Linked DNA regions of Homo sapiens: region 2 is linked to region 1. A link means that fine-mapping ties the variant in region 1 to the expression of a gene that starts in the linked region. Tissue or cell type: tibial nerve. Region 1 holds a variant in brackets; the other region holds the start of a gene. All regions are shown on one strand. Distances are from middle to middle.

Region 1 (2,900 bases):
CAGGGCTCAGCAGTGAAAACATAAGCTTTTCAAAAACGATGAGAAGTGGCCGCAACAAGGTGAGGAGGGGTGGGTTTCAAGGGGGAGGAGGGAAAGTAGTGGGGGAAGGAGAAGCACTATGCACTGAGGTGACATTTAGAGAGGCAGTGTTGAGAGGGCTGAGGGGCTGGAACCAGCCTGCGAAAGGGAGTGAGAGTGAGAGCTGATGGAGCTGATGCAGGCCAGATTCCTTTATCAAGAAGGAGCCCTGAACAGAGATGCAGCAACCTGATTTCTCACTCCAACTCTGCCATGAACCAGCTTGCGGCTTTGAGCAAGCTGCTTCTCTGTGCCTCACCTGTGTAAGGGGACGGGGGACTTAGAGCAGATTATTCTAGGTAGTTTGTAAACTCTATAGAGTTCTCCTGGGGCTTTTGTCTTTCTAGAATTGGAAGAGACCAGAGTGTCTTTGGACACACGGAGAAAATAACCAGGAGAAAGAAATGAGTGTTCAAGAGCAAAGGGATTAATGGAGGAAGATATATGAGCAGCTGGGGTCACATGGTATGGAAGGCTACAGAGAGGGCTTAGAAGGTGGTGGGTGGGGGAGAGGGTAGGGCAAAGGAAGGGGGGACATTAGGGAGAGCTTGACATACATGAGGAGGTAGAAGTTGAAGGACTGTACCTTAAGTGGCCTTTATCCTGCCAGTGAAGGAGTTGAAGAAAGGGCCCAGCTGAGGACAGATAGATAGGCCCTGCAGTCCTGTTCTCAACTCTGAGTGTGCACCAGCATCACCTGGAGGGTTTGTTGAAACAGAAGACTGCTGGACCCCTTTCCCAGAGCTTCTGATTCAGCACATATGGGATGGAGCCTGAGAACTGGTGTTTCTAATGATGCTGATCCTGCTGGTCCGGGGACCACACTTTGACATCTACCGTTTGCTTCAGCCGCAGGCCTCCACCTGTGTTTGATGAATCAGAATGGGAAAACTGAGTTGGCGGTTGACCCTGAAAAATAACAGTCACTGGCTAAAAGTACTGGGTCTGCTGAGAGGGGCAGATAAAGCCGTTGGGTGTGATTTAGGGGCTCAGCCTTGTCCAGTGTTGCCTGGATCTCTGGATAATGAGGTTGTGGAGGTGAAGTTAGGGGGTCTGACCCTGCACTGGCTCCCATGTTTGGGCCCCAGTGAAGTCATTCTGGGAGGGGCCCAACTGGTCACTCTCCTGGGGGCCAGACTGGGCCTCCGGTCCTTCATCCCCTAGGCCATGCCCATACGCTAATCTCTGACTACTTT[T/G]TCATGCAGCCAAGGCAAGTGACCACCCCTGCGCCTGCAGAGGACAGCTGTTAGACTGCCTCAGTTGTGAGTGAAAGCTATCTACTCTCCCGCTCCCCTCCTACCCTGCCAGCACATCAGAGTGGGCCTGGGAATGGGGAGAAAGACTGGGGAAGGGAGTGGTCGGTCACTCGAGGTCAGGAAGGAAGACCTGCAGGAAGAGGGGAATTCTCTTCCATCACCCTCCTCCCTCCACGCCCCAAAGTCGATCCCAGCCCCAGTGGGGAAAGCCCCAGGAGCACGGAGGTGATGGCTGATGGTTCAGTGAAATCATCAACTTTTCAAAAAAGGTGAAGAGTGATTGCCACCTGCCTCAGAATCCCCCTGACTCACGCCCCTGCCCTCGAGCCCTTCCTCCCAGGTAAACATTGATTCCCAAAAGTCCTCCTTCCTAAACTGCTCCCAGTAGGTCAGAGTCTTTGCGGTTTTTTTTCCCCACAACTAGGGCCGAGTGGCCTTGGAACGGTTTGACCATCCACAGAGCCCAGTTGGCTTGTAGGTGCCCGTGGACAATTTTGTATTAGCAAATCCAGTAAGACTATGGTTATTCTTGGTGGCGGAAACCCTTGCCACTTCTTTTCTCTTTCTCCAGCACTTGGAGGTTGGGAGGGAACTCTGGAGGGCAGATCTCTCAGCTGAAGTTTCAAATGGATTGAGGTGTTTGAGGAGGGAAGATTCTCTCCCTAATTCCTCCGAAACCTTGACTTCTGAGTTGCAGGGCTGGGGAAGAGATTGCAGGGTCTACTGTGTAGGAGGAGAGGGAAGAGAGGTGCAGGACATGAGAATAAGAAGAAGAGCTGTGAGAGGCCACAAGCACTGGAGCGCCAAGCCCCAGCTTCCCTCTCTAGATTCCAGCTCCCGCCATTCTGCCACACTAGAACTCAGGACAGCTGTGTTCCTGGAGGTATGTTTGGAGAGAAGCAGCTTCTCAGCTTCCACCCATGGCCTTCGCCAAGCAGCCTTTTCTCTAGGTAATCTTGCTTTTGGCGAGGAAATGAGAAAGTGACAAATATGGTCTTGACCCAATCACTCCACAAACTCCGGGAATCTTACTGTAAGATGGCCAGGACTAGGGTTTGGTGACTCTGTCCCTGTGCTATTCTGTCAGCATTACATAAGGCCATCGCGTCATTTCTAAATGTGTTGGGTGTCATGAGGAAGCTTGGGAGGGGCCCAAAGGGTGGAAAATTACCATAACAGGCGAGAGGCCCATCAGCTGTGGGGTCCCAGTCCCTGTCTGCCATGGATAATTTTAGTGGCATTATATCCCCATCCACCTCCTCCCTCCAGCTGGAGCGACTTCCAGCCTTGAATTCCTCTCCATTTTTGCACTTGTCTAAATAATCCCTTTCGAGAGGAGGATCAGTGTCACTGGGTTGACAAGAATCAGCCGAGGGGGAGGGCAGGTGAAGATGACTGCGTAGCATCCGCTGAGACCAAGTTTCAAGAGGGAAACCAGGACTCCCCCACCCTTCCACCCACGGGTCCTTTCTCACACTGCTCCTCTGGGAGTGTGTAAAGCACCTACTACACTGAATTGTCAAGTTTTTTCCTGTGGTTCGTAAAGAGAAAGGGAGAGGGAGGTTG
Region 2 (2,900 bases), 28 kb before region 1:
CTCTGTCTCAGGGAGCAGTGCAGGGCTAAGTCCAGAATCCAGGTCTCCTCACCCAAGCCCTGGCTCTCAACTACCCCTCAGGGGTCTCTGCCCTCCTGTGGAAGAGAAGTTCCAGTTCCATGACAGGCAACTTGTCAGGATAAGCATCCAGAAACTGACCCGCCATCAGTGGCACTTTGACAACTGTCTTCTTAATTCAAGGTTCACTTAGCATAGGTCTCATAACTGCTTTGCTCAGAGCTGGCCTGCTGGCCTGCAGTTTAAAGAGAAAGGATGCTATGGCCAGGATCCTCAGTGTCACAAGAGAGGAAGTCAGGGAATCACAGAACCTTACAGCCAGAACAGACCCTGGAGAGCGGGAGGTCTGCTCTCCTTTCAGAAAGAGAAGCTAAGGCCCAGAGCAGGGAAGTGGCTTGTCCAGGGTCACACAGCTGAGCAAAGTGACAAACCTGGACCAGGAGCCAGCCTTCAGGTCAGCAGTCTGGTGCTCTTCCCACCTCAACCTGCTCTCCTCTTTCTTAAAGAAAAAGAAAGAGAAGGTGTTTCAGTAGTGAGTGTGGGATAGCCACCCACTTCACCATGGTTTGGAAGCATCTCTCCATCCCTCCTCTCACTCAACAGCTGTGGCAGAACAGTCAGGGCCTGCCTGACCTCTTGAGTTTTATTGTCTCCTCTCAACTTGGGCTTAAAGGGACTTTATTAACCATGACTAATACCAGAGGATCCAAAGCTGCACCCACTTGTTAATTTTGAGGAATTTTTAAATGCGGGATTTAAAAAAGATTTAATTTCACGCATAGGTATGAACAGCCCCTCATCATCCCAGGTAGAGGATGAACAACTCATCATCCCGGGTAGAGGCAGGTAAGTGTGTCCAGCGTCCCTCAGGGAATGCTCTTCTGATGCCAAACCCTCTGCTTCCGCGGGGTCACTTCTCGGGTGGTTTTGTTTCTCCTCTGCTTCCACAGTTGCAAACCCTCGAAGTGCCACGACCCCTGGGGAAACTCGATCTTAAGTCCCATGGCCAAACGCTCCAGCCCGCGGGGCTCTCAGGACACCACAGCGATCGGATTTCGCGTGGCCGCCAGGCTCCCCCTACTCCTGTCCCCTCCCGCCAGAGAACCCCTGGAGCCAATCAGAGCGTCGCGGAGCCCGGGGTTGTAGAGTCCCGAGCCCGGGACCCGCCCCTCTTTGTTGCGGTGGCCAATAGACGCATTCGGAACATCGGCGGCTGCCCGGGTGACTTGGTTATATGTCACAGAATAACATTCGAGAATGGGACATGGAATGAGGCGACGGCCCCAGCAAGCCCCAGCAGCCCCAGCCCCAGCCCCAGGCCCAGCAGCAGCAGCAGCAGCCCCTGCTCTCCCGCCGCCCGGAGAGGCTCTGCAGCCATGAAGCCAACCGTCCCGAGGTAGGATCTTGGAGCTGCCGCGCGCCCTTCCTGCGCGCCGCCCGCCTGCAGCCAGTCCCTCCCGGTGATAGGCGCTGGAACTCGGGGAAAAGGGGGCGGATGGAGCTCTTTCCACTAGATCCCCGCCGGGGTCCGGGAGGGCTTCCTGGAAGAAAGCGGGCCGCCTTGCAAGCCAAGGCTGCTGCAGCGCCCTCGCGCCAGCTCTGGGCGCTCACATGCCAGCACGTTCGTGGCTCCCCTCCTCTCTTGGCCACATCTGAGGACCCAGGAATGTGTGGAGCCTTGCGGGAACCTCCTGTTCCTTCATGCTACACAAGCTGTCTTTCTTCTCCCCACATCTTGCGCTCCGCATCCCCCAAGCTCCTTGTGCCCCTCCATCCCCAACCCCCCGGGTTTAGGTGTGTGTGAAGCTTCGTGGCACATTTTGAGCTGCCTTTCTAGGTAATCGCAGGGCTGGAAGCCCGTCATCGATTCTCAGGGAGGCTGTCAGCGTGCAGGGGGGAGCGGGGAGTGTCGTGGAGACACTCCGGGACCCCTCACTCGGTTCCGCTGTGCGTCCACTTAGCTGTGGTGTCAGCTGTGTCTCCGCTGATTTCAGGCACCGCCGGTAAGCAGGGAGCCTCCGCGGAGCTCCCGCCGCCGCTCCCCCTTGGTGAGTCCTGCCGCAGCGAGAGGCATGGAGAAGGCCGCCCCCGCGGGGCGCTGATCCCCTCGCCGCGCCCGCGCGCACACGCCCCCCGCCGCCGCCGCCGCTGCCGCCGCCGCGCGCCCCCAGTACCTCGCTCCCCGCCCAGGCCCCACCATGACCGGCTCCGCGGCCGACACTCACCGCTGCCCCCACCCCAAAGGCGCCAAAGGCACCCGGTCCCGGAGCAGCCACGCGCGGCCCGTGAGCCTCGCCACCAGCGGGGGCTCAGAGGAGGAGGACAAAGACGGCGGGGTGCTGTTCCACGTCAACAAGAGCGGCTTCCCCATCGACAGCCACACCTGGGAGCGCATGTGGATGCACGTGGCCAAGGTGCACCCTAAGGGGGGAGAAATGGTGGGCGCCATCAGGAACGCCGCCTTCTTGGCAAAGGTCAGTGGCTTCCAGGGCGGAGTTGGGGGGCTGGGGGTAGGTAGGCAGCGATGGGACCGTTTCAGCCTATACATAGCAAACACAGGCAATCTCCATTTTCCTAGTCCTGCTACAAACTCCCTTCCTCTCCCCATTCCTTCCTGCCAGCCCTTTTCTAATTGAGATATTTAGATTGGAAGCCTAAGAAATGGGGAAGGGAGAGGTAGCGGGCTTGCTATCCTGGGACTGTGTAATTGGATTGTGCCAAGGTGTCTTTGAAGCTCCAGCCAAACTCTATTATTTACTCACCCCCACATACATCCTCCTTCAGCAAAAGCTAGAGCCACCAGGTACCAGCGATGCCAAAGAATGCACAGACCCCAGGGATCCCACCCTGCTTGTTCTCTTTGGAGTGTCTTGCTCCTCCTC

Alleles and levels. Positions count from the first base shown, and alleles are read on the strand shown. Sizes are in standard deviations (SD) of each study's normalised expression.
For the expression in tibial nerve of the gene that starts at base 1,215 in region 2, allele G in region 1 goes with a lower level than allele T (small effect, 0.33 SD a copy in GTEx).

The links. PIP is the estimated chance that this variant, and not a neighbour inherited with it, causes the effect.
Region 2: it holds the start of VASH2, and the variant in region 1 is fine-mapped to the expression of VASH2 in tibial nerve (GTEx, PIP 0.91).

The regions. Positions count from the first base shown.
Region 1 is chr1:212,976,964-212,979,863 of GRCh38, forward strand. The region is part of intron 7 of VASH2 (vasohibin 2); the gene reads left to right. Among named protein-coding and RNA genes, the nearest start is that of VASH2, 28 kb to the left of the region's middle. RefSeq lists an enhancer at 2,667-2,716. The variant T/G (reference allele first, on the strand shown) is at 1,275.
Region 2 is chr1:212,949,327-212,952,226 of GRCh38, forward strand. It overlaps VASH2 (vasohibin 2), which reads left to right and starts at 1,215. Exons shown (of 8, transcript NM_001301056.2): 1 at 1,215-1,414; 2 at 2,013-2,492. The coding sequence starts at 2,217. RefSeq lists enhancers at 1,201-1,350, 1,871-1,920.